Linked DNA regions of Homo sapiens. The protein of the gene in region 2 purifies or fractionates together with the protein of the main gene of each other region. This does not show direct contact. Each region holds a gene or a part of one and is shown on either strand. Other genes may lie near its edges. The genes, in order: POLR3B and POLR3G.

Region 1 (12,259 bases), on a different chromosome or scaffold from region 2:
ATGATGAAGCTACTCAGATGTGTTAATAGGAAAGAGTACCCAGATTAATTATAGGTATTTGTGGAAAGTACCAGATGTGTCATCCAGGATCTGTGATCTCTGTGGACCCGCTATTTTTCCCTCAAGTGTTTGTGAAGTGTAACCTTAAGAATTTCAGTGGTTTACAGCACCTGTGGACTGAAGTGATGTCCAAGAAACCACGTCCCAGCCCATCAATGGAATGTACCTGGTAAAAGATCTCCCACTTATCCAGTTATTAACCTATTTTTTTTTCCAAAACACATGTATTAAATTATGTCCCTAGTTTGGTGAGAGAAAGTGCCTTCCATGTGGTTCTTGGTTTGAAGAGTACTGTTTTCACCTTATGACCTAGCAGAACCCCAATCCTCTCAGACAAGCAGGAAGGGAAAAGACTTCCTTTGTTAAGCAGGAAGGGAAAATACTCTAGGTTTTGTTTTGCTTTTTTCTTTAAAGAACATCAGCTTATAGCTACATTTTATAGTCTAGAAGAAAACAGATTTTCTTTTAAATATACTGCTTTGTTTAAATATTGGCCAAGTTGACATTTTCCATCTAAGTAAAAACTACTTTTTCAGATGTTAACATTGGATTGAGTTGAAAAATGAAAAGAAATATCTGAAGTTTTTTTCTCTTATGGTGACAACATACATAAACTCACATAGTATCTAATAATTACTGGAAGTCCAAACACTCTAGATTCTGACTTTACAAAAAAAAAAAATTATTCTCTTTAAAATCATCAGTTTAGAAACTGAACAGGAATTGGGAGATTTCTTTCTTTCTTTCTTTCTTTTTTTTTTTTGAGGCGGATTTTCGCTCTTGCTGCCCAGGCTGGAGTGCAATGGTGCGATCTTGGCTCACTGCAACCTCCGCCTCCCGGGTTCAAGTGATTCTCCCACCTTAGCCTCCGGAGTAGCTGGGATTACAGACATGCGCCACCACACCCAGCTAATTTTGTATTTTTAGTAGAGATAGGGTTTCTCCATGTTGGTCAGGTTGGTCTCAAACTCCCAACCTCAGGTGATCTGCCTGCCTTGGCCTCCCAAAGTATTGGGATTACAGGCGTGAGCCACTGCACTCAGCCGAGATTTCTTATTCACTGTGTATAAAGCACTTAAATTTAGTTCGAATGAAAACTAAATAACCTGTTGTTTATAACAGTAGAAAAATTGGAAACTACCTAAATATTCAACAGTAGGAAACTAGTTAATAAACTAAATGTGTGTAGGTAGATAATGTAATAACAAATGGCAATTAAAAAAATATATATATGTATACAGTCACACACCACATAACATTTTGGTCAACAACAGACTGCATAAATGGTGGTGGTTCCAAACGATTATAATACTGCATTTTTACTATACCTTTTCTTTGTTTAGATATGTTTTGATACACAAATACTTACCATTGTGCTACAACTGCCTACAATGTTCAGTAGAGTAATATGCTGTACAGGTTTGTAGTCTAGAAGCAATAGGCTTTAGCATACAGTCTATGTGTGTAGTAGGTGACAGTGGGTGACAGACACCATCTAGGTTTGTTTAAGTACACTACGATATTCACATAATGAAATCACCTGACAACAAACTTCTCAGAACGCATCCCCATCATTAAGTGACATAAGACTGTGTATACAAATATACATGTATATAAATATATATACTAATATGGAAAATGTCCAGAGTATACTGGTTAAGTTTCAAAATCAAGGCACTGGAAATGTTATCACTGTTTTATACACACACATTGTGTGGAATCATGTGTGTATGTTTGTACTCAGAAAAAAAATCTAGAATAGTACATAAGAAATTATTAGCATCGGCAACTTCTGGAGGGTGGAGTCTGGTGGGATGGGAAAGGAAGGGGATTCATTCTTTGTACTTCATGCATTTCTATATTTTAAAAAACATAAGTATGAATTAAATAATACAAAAACTTCTAGATTTTTTAAATGAAATTAATTTGATGTATGGAATAGCTTGGTAATTGGGTAACGCTGAGAGTTATATTCATTTACATCAATGAAAAACCAGATGAAAATCCCTGCCTTCGTGAAGCTTCTAAGTGAGGGAAGATAGACAATACATAGATACATCAGTAAAATACCAATTTTACTCTATGGTAATAGGCACAAGAAGTAAAAAAAAAAAAAAAGTAGTAAAGAGGAGTGGATAGAGATAAGAGTTTCTACTTTCACTAGAGTGGTCAGAAAAATCTCACGAGAAGGTGACACCTAAGTGAAGACCTGGAGGGGGTGAAGCAGTGAGCCATGCAGGTATGTGAGAGAGTGCTCCAGGCAGAGGAAGCAGCCAGTGCAAAGGTGCTAAGGCAGAGGCACGCCTGGAGTGTTTGGAGAAGAGGCCAGTGTGGTTGAAACAGGGAGTGGGGAGAGGTAGAAATGGAAGTGGGCAGATTGTGCAGGAACTGGAAGGCTTCTGTAAGGACTTCTGAGGGAGACCGACAGCCCCTGAGGGATTTGAGAAGAGAACGGACATGCCCCCTCTGCTCTATTAGGAAAAGACTATATGGGAACAGGTGTCAAAATAGTCAGGAGGCCTTTGCAAAAATCCAGGTAAGACATACAAATGGCCTGGACTAGGTGATGGATTGAGGTAGTGAAAAAGAGTTCAGATTCCAGATGTATTTGGAAGGCTCATGTGATGAGCTAGGGATTGATGTCAATATAGAGAAAAAGGGTCAGGACGGAAATAGACAGTTTTGTTGGCTTGAGTAATACAACGATGGAACTGTCATTTATGGGGCTACTATAAAATAGTTTTCTTTTATACTCAGGATACATATCTATATCTATATTTTTTTTGAGTAAGGGTCTCACTCTCTCGCCCAAGCTGGAATGCAGTGGTGTTCCAAGTATAGCTCACTGCAGCCTCAAACTGTGCTCAAGTGATCCTTCCACCTCAGCCTCCCAAGTAGCTGGGATCATAGGTGCACACCACAACACTTGGCTAACTTTTTTTTATTTTTAGTAGAGATGAGGTCTCACTGTGTTGCCCAGGTTGATCTCAAACTCCTGAGCTCCAGCAACCCTCATGCCTTAGCCTCCCAAATTGCTGGGATTATAGGTGTGACCCACCACACCTGGCCCTCAGTCAATTTTGAAATGAGGGGTATAAAATAGCACTTTGAGAGATTCACATCTTTAAGGAAGAAAAATTCTGACCAAAAACCACTATTTACAAAGTGCAAAAAATATATATATTTGCAATATATATATTGGCAACAGGGTTTGCTTTGTCACCCAGGCTGGAGTGCAGTGGCATGAACATGGCTCACAGAGCCTCCACCTCCTGGACTCATGCAATCCTCTAGCCTCAGCCCCCTGAGTTACTGGGACTACAGGCGTACATCACCACACCTGGCTAATTTTTAAGTTTTTTGTAGAGACGGGGTCTTGCCATGTTACCCAGGCTGGTAAATTATAATCTTCTAAAAAGTAATATATTTCATTTGGTAGCAGAAAACAGAAAAGTTTTTCTTTTTCCTGTTTTAAGAGATAGGTTCTTACCCAGGCTGGAGTGCAGTGGCACAATCATAGCTCAGTGTAACCCATAACTCCTGGGCTCAAATGATCCTTCCACCTCAGCCTCCCAAGTAGCTAGGACTACAGGTGTGTGCCACTGTGTCCAGCTAATTTTTTATTTTTATTTTTAGACATAGGGTCTTGCTATGTTGTCCAGGCTGGTCTCAAACTCTTGGCCTCAGGCGATTCTCCTGCCTCAGTCTCCCAAAGCACTGGGATTATAGGGGTGAGCCATTACACTGGGTCAGAAAAGTACTTATTCTTGATTGAAGACATAAATAGTTATTAGGTGGTAGTATTAAACTCTCTAGCAATATATCTGCAAGAATTCCAATTTCAGGTAAGTGGTACATCAGTCACATGCATCAGACAGCAAGTTACATAGATGTTCTTTAATGTACTCTAAAATGGAACACAGATGCTTCTAAAAATATCATTGTTCAAGAAGAAATATTGTGAACATACTACCAATTCAAGTGCATACTGCACATAAACTTAGAGTTTTTGAACAGACTATGTAGAGAATTCCTGCACTGACAAGAATTCAGATGTCCATGGACAAAAATCATCTCTAACAGAGGTAAGTATATTTTTATACAGCTTGATTCATTAGTTCAACTTTGGCAGTAATCAAGTATTAAAATCAGAGAAGCAACTCCTTTTAAAAAATACACATTAAGGCTGGGCATGGTGGCTCATGCCTGTAATCCCAACTACTCAGGAGACTGAAGTGGGAGGATCACTTGAGATCAGGAGTTTTAAGTTTCACTGAGCTATGTTGTGCCACTGTACTCCTTCAGGGTGACAGAGCAAGACCTTGTCTCAAAAAAAAAAAAACATATATATGGTTTTATATACATATATATATATGGTTATCTATCTATATGGATATATGGATATATCTTTCTATGAGTGTGTGTGTGTATATATATAAACTGTCACACGAATAGGAAGGATAATTAAATCTAAAGATGACTTGTTAGCTGCTTTGTAATACTCTTCACTAGGATAAATGATGCGTTATGCTCTGCTATAAAATTGTATATTTCTTTATGGTACATACAGAAATATACAATATACATATATACCATGAAATACTATGCAGTCATAAAAAGGAACAAGATCATGTCCTTTGCAGAGACATGGATGAAGCTGGAAGCCATCCTCAGCAAACTAACACAGGAACAGAAAACCAAACACCGCATGTTCTCACTCACAGGTGGAAGCTGAACAATGAGAACACATGGACACAGGGAGGGGAACAACACACACCAGGGGGACTGTTAGGGGGTTGGGGGAGGAAGAGCATCAAGATAAATAGCTAATGCATGCTGGGCTTAATACCTAGGTGATGGGTTGATAGGTACAGCAAACCACCATGGCCCACGTTTACCTATGTAACAAACCTGCATGTTCAAACAAAAAAAAGAAGATTGTATATTTCTAACAGTTCCTGTCAAAAGAGTAAAAGATAGAAGGACTGAAGATGACAGTAAAAGAGAAGGTAGTTTCTATAGTCAGAACACGTTTTAATTATGGTTGCTATGGATCCTACTTACTTATTAATTGTGTGTTCGTACAGTGCAATGTTACAATCATTTTCTTCATTCACATCTAAATATTCAACCAGACTCTCATGTAAGAAATCTTCAAAATTCCTGGGAAAATATTGGTGAAAGAGACATCATTAAAAAGCATTTTTCTGCAGTATTTTATATAATAACAGGAGATACTGGCTTTCGTTTAGGCCCAAAGCACCTTTCTCTCCCAGAGAATATCATTACATTGGGATACCTGAAACATGTTATTCTTAGCTCACACAGTAACCACAAACTGCTGAAATAAAAACAGCAAAGTGTCTGTCTGTAACTCTTGTGAACCTAGTCCCCACTTCTTAAAAAAAAAATTCTGACCTTAGAAACCTCATAATGAGACCCACAGTGTCTACACTGACACATGATGTAAGTCCTTTTCTTACCAGAAACACTTACTTGTGTACTAACTGACATCAAGACTAGGTAACCCTCATGATCTAAATTGATGAATATTTTACAATGTCCAAGCAAGTTCACATGGAGCAAAATAGGTTTTTAACAGGCTGGTAATTTGGTGGAAAGAAATTAAAACACTAAAATGAAAATACACTTTTCTTAAATCATGTATGTGGGTATTAAGGAGATTGGTAAGTTTTACTTTTGGCTACTTACCTGTACCCTTGGGCCAGCTCTTCCATATGTTTATTTGTGACTGCTGGCTTCTGTTTCTTGACAATTATGTAGGGTCTAGAATGGAAACAGCAAACCAAATTAATAATAGTTCCAGGGAAAAATTACACAGGCAAGTTAGTTTACCAAAGTGAGATGAGGGAAGATGTAAATACAAACAAACCTATTCCTGGATTGCTGAGGACACCAGGTAATTTTTGTATGGATGAGCATGGTGTAGGGGACTATGCTCTCTCTCACATACACACACATACATACCCAAGCCCATGTGTACATGTGAGTATGTGTGGACATATTCATGCACACACACAGTGCTTCCTGCAAGTATCTTAGGAAACATTTGGTTTTGAATGAAAAGGCAACACAAAAATGATACTCAAAGTCTGAAAAGGAAACAAAACCTTTAATGCCATATTTTAAAAAACGGTGTAATGTATCAATCTAAAAACTTCCCGATTTCACATTGGAAAATTTTGCATACTACTCATGGAGTTAACAGGCAAAGAAGCACTGTCACCTAGGGTAATAACGGCGTTGTGTTGTGAGGTTCTGATGAATATCCAGATGTTTAGAGTAGTTTGATTTAGTCTAAACATCACTGAGCTAGGTTAGCAAGATACTTAAAGCTACACATTACCAAAGAGAGTGGCTAAAAGTTGGCAGAGAATGAAGCTTTCTTACTTTGTGGTTTTCAGTGACGTAATGGGTGGAAGGTGGAGAAGGCATTCTGGCAGATTAACCTGTAACTGTCAGTGGGGACTTGCCTCGGAGGGCTTTGCCACCATGAGGAAACCCGGACACAAAGGATGGCATGCGGCACTGAAACGTCAAGGGCTGTTGCTATTTGGATAAGCAGCTCTTACAGAGAGGAGCAAGTAACCACCAGACACTTGTGCGCTCTACCCTAAAGTCCAAATAACTATTTGAGGACTAATGAGCACTTTTCAACAGTTAAGAAGAGGAGCTGCACAATTACAAAAGGGGAACACAAGTTGTTGAAAAATGAACTGGGTGAGCTTTTCATGGAAATCCACAGTACCTCGAAATTCTGGCTCCTTCTTGGTAGGGAAGCAGAGCCTACTAATGCCTCATTTGAGCGCTGCAGTGGATTCAGGTTAAGCCTCAGATGAGAAGACAGAAACCGGCGGAGGAGAGGGAGGGGATCACATTTAGCTGCCTCAGTTATCCTTACGTTACTCAACGCATTCTACTATTTTTTCCTGCTAGATCTGTTATGCCATTATAAAGTTGCTTCTATAAAAGAGTTTTATTTTTGAATATATATTATGTTGGATGTAATGAAATCCTAAAAAAGAGTAACCTAGAAAATGTCACTGTTATTCCTGCCCTTAACTGGACCATGCTATTAAGTTATAAATAAGCACCTAATGTGTGCCTGGCACCCTACTGAGCACTTACCACACCTTCTATCAACTAGTTCTCAGGACAATCTTAGGCAGGCATTATTGTTTCCATTTTACAGCCAAGGAAACCAAGGCTGAGAGACTGAAGTAGTATACTCAGAGTCACACAACTCAGTAAGTGGGAAGTTAGGATTCAAACACAGGTATATCATCAGCTAACCATTCTTCGGTTGCAAAGAAGAGAAACCAATTCTGGCTAATTTAAGCAAAAATGAAGTTTACTGGAAGCATTAAGAATTTACAGGTGCTGGGTGCGATGGCTCACACCTGTAATCCCAGCACTTTGGGAGGCTGAGGTGGGTGGATCACTTGAGGCCAGGAGTTCGAGACCAGCCTGGCCAACACAGTGAAACCCCATCACTACTAATAATACAAAAAATTAGCCAGGGGCAGTGGTGTGTGCCTGTAATCCCAGCTACTGGGTCAGGGACGGGGGTGGGGAGCTGAGACATGAGAATCGCTTGAACCTGGGAGGCGGAGGCTGCAGTGACTCAAGATCGTACCACTGCACTGCAGCCTGGGTGACAAAGTGAGACTCTGTCTCAAAAAAAAAAAAATAATTTAATGGAAGGATAAGAATCAAAGAAAAAGGTGAAATGCTCAGCCTCAGAAAGAAAAGGAACGAGAGCAGTTCCAAGAATCCAGAAAATGAGGTTTAACAGGCAGTCTCTTGCATGTAGCACTGGGAGAATGAATCAAGTCCAACCACCTCCCTCCCTTGATTTATTTTACCTGGGATTCAAATTCTCTGATGAGGGGGTCTGACTGACCTCATTTGGGTCATATGCCCAACCCCTGGCTGAAGAGAAGAGGGTGCTGGACTGACCATCCCAAGAAGCCTGCCAATGGGGACAGGCAGTCCTCAAAAGAAAATGAGGTAGTGTCATATGAAGGAGGAAAGGATGCTGGAGGAAAGAAAGCATGCAGTCACTCTCCCAGCTCTGACAGACTTCCAGCTACTGCTGGCTCACTGCCTTGTGCTTCAACACTACCCGAGGTATACACAGAATAACTACGGTAATGCTAGAAAAGGCTTGTGACACAAGGCAATGTCCTCAGCTGATGTCTCTGCATAGCCCCTCAAACCAGACACCATGTCACATTCGTCTCTGTACCTCCGGCTCCTAGATAGTACCTGTGCACAATAGGCCCTTAATAAATACTTACTGAATGAATAAAAGGAACCTACTTTTCCATTGGATCTAGTGTTATTTTATTTCTTCATGCCTCCATGTTTTCATTCTTGCCTTTTTTCAGCCTTTCTCCTCCCCACCTACCTCCAAGTTAACACAATCCTACTCCTCCTTTAAAGCTCAGTTTGTAGCAACAGACTATAGTGGGCAAAATCATGCGTCAAACGAATCCTAAGGACTTTCAAATAAAAAACAGATTCCACCACTCTTTAGCTTTCAGTAAGTTACTTAGCCTCACTGAACCTCAGTTTCCTCATTTCTTAAATGACAAGAATAATCCAACCTCATAGGGTTGAATGAAGAAGTTAAAGCCTTACACATATAGTGTCTCCATTAAAATGACAAATGGTGGCTAGCATTAACCACTACCACAGTTGATTGTTATTAGTCATTTTTTCTGCCTTTCCCGGCAGACTGAGCTCTCTGAGGGCAGACTCTGTCTCCCATTAATCTGAATCCTCGGTACCTAATATGCATATTCATGAAGTGTTTGCTCACGGAATTAAATTTATCTTCACAATGAAAGAGGTTAAAACAGTTTCAAAAATAAAAACAAGTCTATTTCTTTCAAGAGCAAATATAAAGAGATTCTTAAAAACTCTTTTTAGTAACCTGCATATATACCTGCATAGCCTTCCCCCATCAGAAGAAATATAGACACATCGATCTGTAAGATTTGTTGAGATGGAAACAAATTCATTGATATATCCTGCTCTTCTCATGAGTCGAAATGTATTCACTAGCTTTTTGTGGTCTCGAATGACACCTAAGATGTTACCTAGGCAAAAAGAAAGAACAGGTAAGACAGAAATAAAAAATAAATGCAACCTGATTTAATATATCCAACCAATAAAAATAGTAATCAGCACTAAGCAGTTATTTGAAAATACCATTATTAACACCTGCAGCCAGTCCACAAGGTTGCAGGGAAGCAACAAAGGAAGAATGCTTAAGGGCCAGTCCTTCCACATGCAGGCTGAGGAATACTGGAAAAGTCAGCTTCATTTTCCTCATCTTTCAGCACAGTGCTGGGGCATGAACTTGGGGTCCAAACAACCTGGGTTTGAACACTGGCTCCATCACTTCCACAGGCTGGCAGTAAAGGTTAAACGAGCTGATCATTTAAAGTACTGAGAATTCTGCCTAGCACCTACTAACTGCTATTATTAAACTGCTTCTTGTTGTAATCAACATTTGTGAAATGAGGAAAATGAACTTTGCTTCCCAAGGTTAGCGGGAGGATTCAAAGAGGCACTGGGTGAAAGTGCAGAGTAAAAGCTCACTCAATGTTAGCCTCTGGGATACAATGAACTAGGCAGTCAGTTAACAGCCCTGCTGAGGCTCTGACCCCTTCCTCACCAGCAGATATAAAAAAGAGTTAATGCCTCCTAGAATGAGAGGAAGGGGGAGAGGAAGAGAGAACAGACAAGTGATAAGGGATAAGCTCATGGAGCATACTAGGGAGAGAACAGGCACACAGCACCAAATCAAAAGCAGAAAGGAAGAGAGCACACTTGCTGCTAAGTCTCTGGAAGACTTCGAAGGAGACGGGAAGAGGTATATGAAAGAAATAACTGGAGTGTGAGCCAAAGGAGAGGGATCCTCTTATCACAGGCTGCTGACATATTGATTATCAGATGGCTAGACAAAGTCAATTCATTATAAGAGTTGATCTGATAATTTTTGCAGAATGACTCCAATATTTGACTTGTACTTAAAGATACCATGTTGAACCGTATTCCACTAAGGATATGCCAGCAACTGCAAAAGGGGAGAAAGCAGCCACTTTCTGCAAAGTTACCCTTTAGCTCTGATAGCTATATCCTCTCAGAACCTTGGATAACCCAGCCAACAAAGTAACTGTTTCTGTTATCATTGTATTTTCTACCTTTAAGTGAAGGTCAACCTGGGCCCAGAATTAAAGTCTATCTGTGCTTTAAATACCAGGATAATAATGGATTCCCTCCCCCTCTTCACAGACTATCTAGGACCAACATGTCTCTATAATATACCCACCATTAAGAAAGACAAGAAACACATTTGGGTAAGAGAGCTCTTCCCCACATAATAAATTCACATCTTCTACTCCCAAGTTACTGGCTAATTTAACAATGGGTCCATCTTCCATATCAGTTGTGATGTGTGTCATAAGGGCCAAGTTTTTAACCAAACCACATGCCTAAAAAACAAAAGATGGTCATTTCTAAGAATGAACATTAGTAATACAAAGTACAGTTTACATCTGAAAATAGCTCACTACTTTGCTGGCAGCAATGCAAAGCAGTACAACTTTGTAGGGGATACTGTGGTGATTCGCACAAATGCCTTTAAAAAATATATATATCCCTTAACTCAGGGGAATTTCTCTTCATAACAAGCAAGGATATAAAATAGATTTAGATACAGAAATGCTCAGCACAGTACTATTTGTAATTGTAAATGCTGACGACATCATAAATGCCCAACAAAACTGATTACATTAACAATTACTCCCAGACATTGGAACATTACAGTCATTATGATGACATTGTATAAAATAAGTAAAGGAAAACATTAATAAATGCAGCTACATAAAAATATAAAACTTCTGGCCTGAAATGAGAGACTGTATAAAATAACTGGCCAGTGCCCTTAAGTTTCTTGGTCACGAAAGGTAAATAAAGACAGACTGAAAAACTCTTTCAGATGAAAAGAGACAAGGAGACATGACAACTAAAAACAATGTGTGATTCTGGATCAGAAAAAAGACAACAGTGGGACAACTGGCAAAATTTGAATAAGATCCATAGATTATAGTATTGTTCAATGTCATGAGGCTGATAACAGTGCTATGGTTACATAAGATGTTCACAGTTGGGAATCTAGATGAAAGATTGTGGAAAATCTTTGTACCAGTTTCATCACTTTTTTGTATATCTAAAATTATTTCAAAATGAAAAGAAAAGAAATCTTTTTAAACATCTATGCAACCCGGTACAGTTCTAAAACAAAAATACCAACAAGGACAGAATATAGCAAATAGGAAAAAAATACTTAAGACAGGTGACTTGTAAGATTGTATCTTCAGGTCTTAGAACCATCTGCTGCAGTAATGTACAAAATAGCTACTTTTTTGAAGTTAGCTGAAGCAATCTCTGGGAAATGAAATGTTTCAAAGTTCAAGATATATAAATTATGCAAAATTTGACAAACTGGATAATTTTAGTGTCAATTTCCATATGGTTTAAGATAAATTAAATAGTTTCTAAAAATCGCAGCTCTATACAGACTCCTATTTTCATCTCTTCCAAATAATAAATTCCTACACTTTGGACCCTACATCTTTTACTTGTTGTAATTATTAATTCAGCATATATTCATGGGGCCTGTACTCTAACCAAGGCTCTATGTTAGGAGCTTGAGATACAATGGTGAACCTTCCTTCCTCCAGAATTTTACAATTTAGAAGGAATAGAATCAAGTGAAACTAACAATGTTAACACAAAGGAGAAAGGACCGTGACACAGGGAGTAGCGGGTGCTATAGAAGTAAACCCATGTAAACTCCCTGGCTTGATGTTTAGGCAATTGCTTGTGTTTCCAATATAAGTGAGTCAAAATCCACATTAGGTCATGGACTGTATACTCCTAATTGGCTGTGACTGAGCCTACCTAAGGACAATAAGGAGCTGCTCAAAAAGAGCCCCTCATGAGCATGAGAGGTGGTAGGTCTTTCAATCTGCCTTCACAGTCTTATCCCCTCTGTGCATGTTTTGATTTTGGGATAAACTAAAATAATAAAGAGAAACATGGACTATATTACTTTTAGCTAACATACTGAATCAAATGCTTCTGCAGGTCCTAGTTTTAGAAT
Region 2 (12,259 bases):
TGTCTCCTGAGACCTTGATAAAAATTCAGATTCTCAGTTTCTGTCTGCAGCCAACTGATTCAAAATCTGCCTTTTAACAAGATTCCTAGGTAATTCTCTTGTACCTAAAGTTTAAGAAGCATTGTATAGGGCACTGACCTAGTTTCTTAGACAAATAGAAAGAAAAAAAAATGGGAAAACCATTACAGTTTAAAAGAAAGTTAAATGTCATGTATTTTTTATATCTTGATTTGAACAAATTAACTGTAAAAACATTTATGTGATAACTAAGAAATGTGAATGTTAGTTCTATATAAGATGATGGTATAGAGTTATTGTTAAAATTGTAGATGCAATGTTATTGTGATTTTTTTAAAAGCCCTTAACTCTGAGAGAGGATACATACTGAAGAGTTTAAAATAATCTGAAGCATGGGAGTAGAAAAGTATAGTTAAAGTACAATAGTCATATACGGATAATTTTGAAGCTGAGTAGTGGGTATATGGAGATTTAATATACTGACTTTTGTGCATGTAAGTATAGTAAATGTAAGTATTAGTAAACCAAAAAAGGCATAGACTTGTAGTTTAAAACGACAACATTAAAGATGACAAATCAACTTTTAGTGTTCAAGCAGTTATGAAGGAAAACTCAAATATGGAGGCCTGCAGGGATAAATTTACGAAATGAATAATGTAAAACTATGAAACCCAAAGGGAGGGATTGAAACCAACTTTGCAAAAGTCATAACTGAGAAAATTATGACAGTGAAAGATATCAGACCTAATTGATCCCATCTTGCTTCTAACCTCTGAACTGTCCTTGTTCATTCTTGGGCGTGAAACCACCTTTGCAAAATTATGACTGAGACAGTGAAAGAGATCTAACCTAACTGTGACTCCATCTTGCTTCTAACCTTTAAGCTGTCCTTGTTCATTCCTGGGCATAGGCTGAACTAACTTTGGGAGGAAATTAGTTTATGGTTTGAAACAAAGACGATAACAGACTTTCCCAAAACAAACCTCCTCCTTGCCTGGGGACTAGACTGCCATTGTCGGACTAAGAAATTATTCACAAGATTAGAAATTATAGTTTCGGAGTCATGCAGCTGGAGGCTACAAGATTCTGACCCTCCCTAAACCACTCCAAAGATCAGTGCTTGAGATATTTTGCAGACCCTGCACTTGATGGATCAGGGGGCACTACCCAGATCGATTAACTGACTCTTCTGATCTTGTGGCCCCCACCCAGGAACTGACTCAGCAGAAGAGAACAGCTTTGACTTCCTATGATTTCATCCCCGAGCCAACCTATCTGCGCTTCCAGTTCACTGGCCCCCTACCCACCAAATTAACTTTAAAATCTCTGATCTCTGGCTGGGCGCAGTGGCTCACAACTATAATCCCAGAACTTTGGGAGGCCAAGGCGGGTGGATCACCTGAAGTTGGGAGTTCAAGACCAGCCTGACCAACATGGAGAAACCCCGTCTCTACTAAAAATACAAAATTAGACAGGCATGGTGGCGCACGCCTGTAATCTCAACTACTCGGGAGGCTGAGGCAGGAGAATTGCTTGAACCCGGGAGGCGGAGGTTGCAGTCAGCGGAGACCATGCCATTGCACTCCAGCCTGGGCAACAAGACCGAAACTCCTCCGTCTCAAAAAAAAAAAAAAAAAAAAATCTCTGATCTCCGAGTTTTCGGGGAAACTGATTTAAGGAATAATAAAACTCCGGTCTCCCGCACAGCCAGCTCTGTGTGAATTACTCTTTCTGTATTGCAATTCCCCTGTCTTGATAAATCAGCTCTGTCCAGACAGCAGGCAGGGTGAACGCCTTGGGCAGTTACAAAATCATATCTGAAAATGTTCTCAGTATCATAGCCATTATGTCAAATCAAATGCCGTGCATTCTACTTGAGTAATTCACAGAAAACAGGAAACGATGTTTCATTACATAAAGATGTTGAATATATGATTTGCTTCTGGGGCCTTAAATGTAGAAGGACATTAAAATTGGCCATCATTGGCAGGGTGCCATTGGCCGGGCACGGTGGCTCATGCCTATAATCCTAGCACTTTGGAAGGCCGAGGCAGGCAGATCACTTGAGGTCAGGAGTTTGAGACCAACCTGGCCAACATGGTGAAACCCCGTCTCTACTAAAAAAATAAGCCGGGCATGGTGGTGCGCGCCTATAATCCCAGCTACTTAGGAGGCTGAGACAGGAGAATTGCTTAAGTGAGGGAGGGAGGTTGCAGTGAAAAAAATAAATAAATAAAATATTTAAAAAATTAAATTGGCTGTCTAAAAGTGCAATGCCTTGTTACTGCTATTCCTTGCAAATGAATTAAAACTTGGACTGCCACATCCTGAGTGTTACATAGATTTACAGCAATTATAGTTATCTTACCTTTAAGGCAAATATTTTTAAGTTGCTAAGGCTAATTTTATAATTTTAAACCTCAAAGATGAGATCTATGAAGTCCTTGATTCTACATGTGTATTTTAACTCAACTACTCCTTAGTAGCTAAGACTTCCACCAAAACAGTTCTACCAATACTCTTAACATTTGCTGTGTATTAGAATCACCTGGGAAGCTTCTAAAACTGACTCTTGCCCAATCCTCACCCCAAGAGATCTGGATTGATTGGTTCAGTTCAGTGATTCACAGAACTTAGCATACATAGAATTATCTGGAAGGCTTCTTAAAACACCAGTGCTGGGCCCACTCACAGTTTCTTTTTTCTTTAGGTCTGTGGTGGAACTCACAGTTTGCATTTCTACCAAGTTCTGAGTGATGCTGCTGCAGACAGCACTCTTTGAGAACCATTGCTCTAGTTTCTTAAGCCACCCAAGTCATTCTAATGGCAGCCAGGGTTGAGAACTGAGAGCCGCTTGCTTTGTAGTGTTGGCCCTGTGATAAAGTGAGCTGGGAGTTTTCAGCCTTTTGGTCCAAAATAGTGCCTATATTCAAATTGTAGACAGTAAAATTGATATAAAGACGTAGCACCTTGTTGGTTTTACGTAGTGTTCCTTCACCATTAATGTGGTAGACTAAGAAGGGTAACATTAATGACCAGGCAAGAAACCCTGGTGAAGAGTAGAGCAGCTGTGTGAAGTACTGTGGCTTGCATAATTTTGCAAGGAGGGCAAGTGAGTAGATTCAGAAATGAGACTGAGCTGATGGGGCCAAAACCAATGCCACTCCTCTGACTTCCTCCGAGTGGTCCAGGGGACATACCATTTCTCTCTTGGGTTCAAGGGGTTAAATGAGGCTCAGTATTATCAGCAGGGAAAGAAATGTAAAGAATGTGCATTATAATCATCACTACAGTTGAATGCAGACTTCTATTGAAAGAACTCTAGCGTAGGGATCCCTGTTTATACATTGGCAGCTCAGTTCTCATAGTATAATCAGAGGATTCAAACGTTCAATACAACTTGCATATGTGATATCACTCCTGTCTCCAAAATTGAAGAGTACAGGTTTATCATAACTTTAATGATTTTAACTGTTTTTCTCTGAATTTTTTTTTTCTTGGACAGGCATCTTTCGAGTCTCATTGATCCCATTCCCATTTCTAGAAGGAAGACATTGGACTAGATCTCAGGGATTCTTCCAAACACTCACATGCTAAGATAAATCATTTAAAGTCTTAAAGTATATATGACTAATGATAGTTTTTATGTTGACATGAAAGATTTCTTCTCCTCATCAGCCTGGTCTTGTCTTGTGTCCACTTTTTATGTACATTACATCTGAGATCCTACTGCCAAACCACAGAAGGGTGGGTGAATTGCGTGGACTGGATGTGGGGCAGTAGTGGGTGAGGGGGTTGAAGCCATCATTATCTTACCTGCCAGAGGTGTGTGAGTGTGAGCAGTTCAACAGTCAGTTGTCACATGTTTATTTGTGTACATGTTTTGCTTTCCAAAAGTATTTTAAGTCAACTGTGCTACTTAAGGGGTGCAGTTTTATATTTTGCTTTAAAGTGTTGATTTCTTTTTTATATGTGATCCAGTAAATCGTAATCATTAATAGTGCCTTTCAGAATTTGCCCACTCATCTGGTATAACTGGTTCTGATGGCTGGGAATAAAGGAAGAGGACGTGCTGCTTATACCTTTAATATTGAGGCTGTTGGATTTAGCAAAGGTGAAAAGTTACCTGATGTAGTGTTGAAACCACCCCCACTATTTCCTGTAAGTATATGAACAGTTGAATTCTCATAGTGTGTTTTTTCATTTTTCAGAGAATATTAAAATTCTATATGGGACTGGATGTATGATTATAGCATCCTCAAGTATAAGAAAGTAAAGGAGAGTGTGTTTCACTTACCTTTAAATATTTTCATGATCTGCTTTCTTAAAATATAGAAAACAAAACTGTATACATCTTTCCATGAATATATTTAGTACTATGTGAACCAGTAAAGAATTAGTTTTCAATTCTTACAACTTGTATTGGTGTTATTGATAAATTCCAATATGAAAATAATAGTTTTAAAAGTCATTAGGTTTTATAATGGTTCTCAGTTCGCACCCTATCACACCTTCACTTAATGATTTTCTTATCTTGTATCTATAGAATTTAAGTTTGCTCCTTAGTATACCACTTGACTTTTTCCCCCACTGAACTTTTTTTGCTTATTTTAGTGTTGTTTTAAAATTTAGTGAGTATGCTGCAAGCTTAATTTCCATAATATATAATGTTTTCGCTTTATGTTTAGTTTAGAATGTATCCAGGGATCTAGATGTATCACACAAGGAGTCTCTGCGTTTTGCTCTTGGTATTTTACCTTTTTGATATTCAGCGCAGCATAAAAACAAAGACAAATATCTCAGGTATTGGCATAATGTCACTTTACAGTGCTTTTAAAAACAAGCTCTTTTCCATGTGTGAGGAGATTACCTCTAAACACTGGGGATGTTAGTACATAGTATTTCTTTATACTTGGAATAAAATTAAAATTCCTTACTACTGGGTAAAAGGCTCTGCCCGATCTCTCCGTTCTGATGTCTCTCTGACCCTTTTTCTACCACTGTCCTCATTCCCCAGCTACGCAGGTCTCCTTGGGTCCTCAGGCCTTTGGCCCTGCTGGTTCTCTGCTGGAACCATCTCTTCTCTTTGCATGGATGGCTCCCTGATTTTATCCCAATCTCTACTCAAATGTGACCTCCCCAAGAGGCCAGGCATGCTCACCCTGCATAGATTCCACCTCCATCCTCCATGCACTGTCAGTCATTTTTCCTTTACCCACCTTCATTTATTTTTATGTCATTTGTCACTATGTGAAATTGTATGTCACCTCATTTGTTTACTAATTTGTTGTATGTTGCTCTCCTAGAATGTAAGTTCCCTGTGGGCAGGGACTTTGACTTATTTATCATGGTATCCTCCATAGTCTAAACATGTTGAGTACTCAATAAGTAGTTGCAGCATGAATGTATACATTCCTAATCAAATTTTGAAAATGTACCTTATCTTTATCCTCTGAAATCAGAAATGTCTTTACTAGGTACCCTGGAGATCCACTTGTTAATGAACATATTTGTGTAAATATATACACACATACAAACGCGTATTTGTGTATATGTATGTGTGTGTATAATTTTTAAAACTTGAAATGCAGCTTCAAACTCCATCTTGCCATTTATTCACTTCTCAATTTCTTCACTGTAAAAGGATAAATATTGGTAGCCCTTTCAATGAGATACTGGATGTTGGATATTGAGTATATTGTAGTCATAGCAACCACTTACTAAATGATAGCTGCTGCTTTTTTATTTATTTATTTTTTTCCAATAATACCACCACTAGCTGAGGTTAATAAGAACCTAAAGCAGCTGCTCTCATTTGGGTACCTTAGTTTTTCTTTTTTTTTTTGGTACATTAATTTTTTTTTTTTTTTTTTTTTTTTTTTTTGTGAGACGGACTCTAGCTCTGTCACCCAGGCTGGAGTACAGTGGCGCGATCTTGGCTCACTGCAAGCTCCGCCTCCCGGGTTCACACCATTCTCCTGCCTCAGCCTCCCGAGTAGCTGGGAATACAGGTGCCCGCCACCATGCCCGGCTAATTTTTTGTATTTTTAATGGAGACAGGGTTTCACCATGTTACCCAGGATGGTCTCGATCTCCTGACCTCGTGATCCACCTGCCTCGGCCTTCCAAAGTGCTGGGATTACAGGCGTGAGCCACCATGCACGGCCTGGTACTTTAATTTTTAAAGTAGATAATCACATAGGTCAACAGACTGTTTGGCAAAATGATTATTGGTGTAGTTTTCAGGGCCAATAGGAAAATTACGCATCTTTCTTACCTCTAATAGAAGAGCAAAGTAGGAAATGGGTTAACAGGTTAAATAGACTACAGAAGTTCATCTTTTAAGTTGGTTGTAAAACTTAGTGCCTGTAAAACATAGTATTTCAATAAAACTGCTGTTTTCTATAATACAGATAAAAGGGATATTAAAATACATAATTGATTTGAAAAAAATCTTTGTCTCTTAATTTAAACAGGATACAGATTATAAACCAGTGCCACTGAAAACAGGAGAAGGTGAAGAATATATGCTGGCTTTGAAACAGGAGTTGAGAGAAACAATGAAAAGAATGCCTTATTTTATTGAAACACCTGAAGAAAGACAAGGTACTGTATTGGAGTCTTTGATTATGTGGCTTAATGTATACAGATGAAACAGTGTTTAAGCACAAGATATATAATCATTTAATGTTGATTGATTCGATTCAATAAAAAATTATCAACTACTTTGAAAAAGCTATTTATGTTGCTTTAACAGAAAAAATACTTTAAACTTTTTGATATTTTATTTTTAGAAATATCTTTCATTATAATTTTATATGTTCAGTGAAAATTATGAAAAACAGGAAAATTTTAAAAAGTAAAAATTACCCATTCTTATGTCTAGAGAACCACTATTAATATTTTAGTATATATTCCAGATTTTTTCTTATGCATGTATATTCTCTTTACAAAATTAGATTCACATTACTTTGTATCTTCCTTTTTTCACTCAGTAGCATATTAGCATTTTCACATATCCTTATTATTCTTGGAAAACATGACTTTTAATGACTGGTAGTCTACTCTGTGGATATATTATTATTAACTGTAACTAATTTCCTGCTTTTTAAATATTATTTTCAGTTTTTTGCTTGTATATATAATGCCGTGATTGTTATCATTATACATAAACCTTTATGCATGTCTCTGATTATTTAATATTTAGGTTAAAAAAATTTTTGAGACTTAATTTTGTTTGGTTTATCATTTAGGTGTTTGATATGATGTAAAATATGTATTCATTGGTGCTGCTTAGGGAAGAAAGGAAACATTATAGTTGGAGAGGGCTCAACAGTCTCAGGCTAGAAGTGGGAAGTGGTTTTATAGGAAAGGAAACCATTCCTGAGTAGCTGTTTAGCACAGCAGTACTATATTGATTTTTCACTTTCTGCCCTTGATTGTTGAGATTAGAGAGACTGATATCATCTTTGAGTTCTCAAAACAACATCATTAAAACATGAGAAATTCGTAGTGTCATCTCATTCCATTCGTATTAAAAATGCATTCCATTTTTCCTCTCTCTCTAGAATAGTTTGAATTGGCTGAGTCAAAAAAGGAAGCCTTATGTAATGATCTTAGCATGTGCTTATAATTATAGGAAGCATTTTAGACAAATTCATTTAATTCTCAAAACATAGCTGCTTTAAGTTATATAATGGTTTGATAAGAAATATTTTATCTCAAAAATACTTAATTTTTTTTTTTTTTTTTTGGAAATGGGATGGAGTCTCACTCTTGTCACCCAGGCTGGAGTGTAGTGGTACAATCTCGGCTCACTGCAACCTCCGCTTCCTGGGTTCAAGTGATTCTCACATCTCAGCCTCCTGAGTAGCTGGAATTGCAGACGCACAGCACCATGCCCGGCTAATTTTTGTATTTTTAATAGAGATGTTTCACCATGTTGGCTAGGCTGGTCTTGAACTCCTGACCTCAAGTGGTCTGCCCATCTCAGCCACCCAAAGTGCTGGGATTACAGACAGACGTGAGCCACCATGCCCGGCCTAATACTGAAATTTTTAACTCTCATGATGATGTTGCATGCTTTCGTCTGTTTGAGTTCTAAAATAAAACTTTTCATTTTAAAGATTTTAAAAAGTAAGACCAAATGAACTAATCAGTATTCATTCTTATTAGAAAAAATAGTAATGCAGGGTATACTTTAGTGCTTTTAAAATTGATCTTTTCTCTATGACACAGATGCACTTAGGTGAATGTGGTTGTTATTAAAGCACATGTCTAATTTAAAAGTATGTCAAATCAGACTGGACACGGTGGCTTACTCTTGTAATCCTAGCACATTGGGAGGCTGAGGCAAGCAGATCACCTGAGGTCAGGAGTTCGAGATCAGCCTGGCCAACATGGGAAAACCCTGTCTCTATTAAAAATACAAAAGTTAGCCAGGCATGGTGGTGCATTCCTGTAATCCCAGCTACTCAGGAAGCTGAAGCAGGAGAATTGCTTGAACCCGAGAGGTGGAGGTTGCAGTGAACTGAGATTATGTCACTGCACTGCAGCCTGGGTGACAGAGTGAGACTCTGTCTCAAAAAAAAAAAGTATATCATATAATTAAAGCATTTATGTGAGTGTTTTAGACAGGGATATTAAAAACATAATTTTGTTGTTGGTCTATGGGAGTGGTTGGCTAGTACTTGGATTAAGGGGCACTTTATCTTTGATAACTATGCAATAAAGTATTTCAAAATATAAGGGTTTTTTTTTTTTTTTTGCTTTTATTTCTTTCAGGGGAAAACTCTTGTATAGAAATTTCCAAATTGATACAAGTACATTCTCCCTGAGATCTTCATGTTTACTTCTGTCTTTTTTTATTTTATTGTTTTATATTTTATTTTGGAGATGAGGTCTCGCTCTGTCACCCAGGCTGGAGTGCAGTGGGACAATCATAACTCACTGCAGCTTCCAAACTCCTGGGCTCAAGTGATCCTCCCACCTCAGCCTCTTGAGTAGCTGGGACTACAGGCGCACACACCATGCCCGGCTAACTTTTAATTTTTTTTTTTTTTTTTGTAGAGACGGGAGTCTTGCTTTTTTGCTCACACTGGTCTCACATTCCTGGCTTCAAGTGATCCTCCCATCTCGGCCTTCCAAAGTGCTGAAATTACAGGCATGAGCCACCGCACCCAGCTTACCTCTGTTTCCTGATATAGTGTTTAAAAAACACACGCATGTTAAAAATAAAGGTTTTTCTATAAAATATATACATTTATATGTGCCTATATAGGTTTATATAATATGTGTATATATGTGCATACATAAATTTATATAATATCCATGCTATGAGTGAAAAAGAATTGGCCAGACTGAAGAGAACGACCCTACTGTCAGAGAGAATCATATTCCGGATAGAGATGTTGCATGACTGTACCTTCGCCAGGTGCATCACTTACCACCTGTGTGCTTTAGGAAACAGAGACTTAAGGGCTACTGTAAAGAACTAAATCACTAGACACTAGGACAGACAAATAGGGTGAGAGATCTCAAGACTTCCTGATAGTCAAGTGGCTGGTGGCTCAGGGCATTGAGATCAGTCCTCAAGAACTGATGGCATGGAATGAACATATTTCATGTTGCGATGTCTTCAAAGTTTGTTTTTAATGTTTTCAGGTAGGATTATAGAAATGATTAGTATTTTCTTTGCATCGAAATTTGTTATTTATATAATAAAGGAAAAACACCAATGAATATTATTTTAGTGAATTTTAGCTATAAGAGATCGTCTAGTCTAGTGGTTCCCAGCTCAGGTTCCTGAACCACAGGGTCCTCTGAAGTAGAAACATGATTCTGACAGTGGTGATAGTGTCATAAGTCATTTTCAGAACCTCAAAGCTTAATGGAAATTATACATTTACTTAAATACATCCACAGGTCTGTTACTGAATAAATGGAATTTGGCTTACTAATTCTTGATATACCATCAGTGTCCATGAGACCCAATATAAATTTTTGACGTTTTTTTTTTTTGGAGCAGTTCTTATTGTTTGTATGATTAATATTGATAACTTTTATTCTTGCATAGAGGTTTTCTAAAGAAGAAACAGACATTTTCTTAAAAAGGAAAACTCATTTTATCATAGAATACCATATCAGCCCATTGGACCCTTTTATATATCTAAAATAATTATGGAATCTGAGTGATCTTATTTTTTCTCTATATTGAAATACCTTGCTACTTTATCATCATACATATTATCTCATCACTATTCATCAGACATTCCCCACTATGCTGAAAAAAAGAATAAATTTAAAAAATGGGAGAATGATGAAATTGACTGTGCAATTCAAATAAATTATCACTATTATGTCATCATATAGTTTTCCTATGGTGTTGTCCAAAGCATTACATCTGTTTTTTAAGAAGTTATAAAGTCTTCAGAGACTCTTATGTTTGTAGTTGCTCTGTTTTAATTTTCATTTAATACAATTGAAAATTTCAAAAATTTTTAATTTTTTGCTCATAATGTCTAAAATTGACAGAAAAACATGTTCCACAATTCTTAGACGAATCAGAAGTCAAATGCAAAGAGATAGATAGCTCTCTGGATGCTCATGATGATGATGAAATTGATTGTATAAGCAAAATCTCAGACTGTGAGTCTTCAGATGACAGTGTCTTCAATGAATTTTCTCAAATTCAAGAATCAATGAGTAAACACTGTATCTCCAAGAATTAAAAAGGAATTATGGTGGCCTTCTACAGTCAATCTTTGAAAAAGAACTCATCATGTAATACTTTGTAACAAAAACCTGGAACATCCTGTTTGCTAAAATGAGACGATCATTTTTGTTCTATGATATTTGTGCACCAAAATTAATTTGATGTGTTTTGTAACTGACAAATGCTGAACATAAAGGCAAAGACAACAATGATTGAAAGGAAATTGATTATATAGACATGAAATTGTTTTCTGGATTGATTGTGTTAACTGGTGATTATAAATTTAATAATGAAAATATTTTGCAAGTATAGAGCAAAGAAGATGGCTGGGCCATCCTCTCTTCAATAGAAGTATGAGACATCAGCCGGGCGCAGTGGCTCACCCCTGTAATCCCAGCACTTTGGGAGTCTGAGGCAGGTGGATCACGAGGTCAGGAGATCAAGACCATCCTGGCTAACATGGTGAAACCCCGTCTCTACTAAAAATACAAAAAATTAGCCAGGCGTGGTAGAGGGCACCTGTACTCCCAGCTACTCGGGAGACTGAGGCAGGAGAGTGGAGTCAACCTGGGAGTGAGCCGAGATTGTGCCACTGCACTCCAGCCTGGGCAAGACTCCGCCTCAAAAAAAAAAAAAAAAAGTATGAGACATCAAAGTTTTTTAAAGTATTGCATTTTGGATATGTAAGTACAAGAAGAAGAATTGGAAGTAGTGATAAGCTAGATTCTACTAGAAATGCATTTATAATCTGAAATTATTTAGATGATACACATATGAGAAAACCAGAGGAAATTATAAGTTAGAACCTATTAAAGATGTCTTTGGAATCTGGGATCAGGACGTACAGAAGGCATATATTCTAGGTTTGTATGTGGCAGCCGATGCACAGAAAACTGCATTCAAATGACTTTGCCCATTTTGGTTAAATTTACCTTCAAAATCAGTAAAACATGTAATATAAATTTGGATTTGCTATACTTAATTGCTTAGTAAAATCTCCAATAACTTTATTTATTTATTTTTATTTGAGACAGGATCTCGTTCTGTCACCCAGGCTGGAATGCAGTGGCATAATCTCAGCTCACTGCAGCCTCCACCTCCCAGGCTCAAGTGATCCTCCCACCGTAGCCTCCCAAGTAGCTGGAACCACTGGCATGAGCTACCATGCCCAGCTAATTTTTGCATTTTTTGTAGAGATGGGGGTTTCACCATGTTGCTCAGGCTGGTCTCGAACTCCTGGACTCAAGGGATCCAGCTGCCTTGGCCTCCCAAAGTGCTGGGATTACATCCTGAGCCACTGTGTTGGGCCTAGTTTTATTGATTTTTAAGTAACAGCTTTACTGAGACATAATCCACTATATAAAATTTACTTTTTAAAGTGTACAATTCAGTGACTTTTAATATAGCCACAGAGTTGTGCAATCAACACCACTATTTAATTTTTTTTTTTTTTTTTTTTTTTTTTTTTTTTTTTTTTTTTTTTTTTTGAGACAAGAGTCTTGCTCTGTTACCCAGGCTGGAATGCAG

Evidence for each region.
Region 1: the proteins of POLR3G (region 2) and POLR3B fractionate together in Homo sapiens (co-fractionation; 4 studies listed by BioGRID and IntAct, with this or other methods). This does not show direct contact.

The regions. Positions count from the first base shown.
Region 1 is NC_000012.12:106,430,645-106,442,903, reverse strand, and holds part of POLR3B (DNA-directed RNA polymerase III subunit RPC2), read right to left. Parts: intron 10,587-12,259; coding exon 10,424-10,586; intron 9,186-10,423; coding exon 9,032-9,185; intron 5,848-9,031; coding exon 5,773-5,847; intron 5,224-5,772; coding exon 5,125-5,223; intron 1-5,124. UniProt on the Homo sapiens protein: Catalytic core component of RNA polymerase III (Pol III), a DNA-dependent RNA polymerase which synthesizes small non-coding RNAs using the four ribonucleoside triphosphates as substrates.
Region 2 is NC_000005.10:90,481,506-90,493,764, forward strand, and holds part of POLR3G (DNA-directed RNA polymerase III subunit RPC7), read left to right. Parts: intron 1-3,523; exon of another isoform or gene 3,524-4,019; 5' UTR 4,020-4,062; coding exon 4,063-4,179; intron 4,180-6,494; coding exon 6,495-6,624; intron 6,625-12,259. UniProt on the Homo sapiens protein: DNA-dependent RNA polymerase catalyzes the transcription of DNA into RNA using the four ribonucleoside triphosphates as substrates.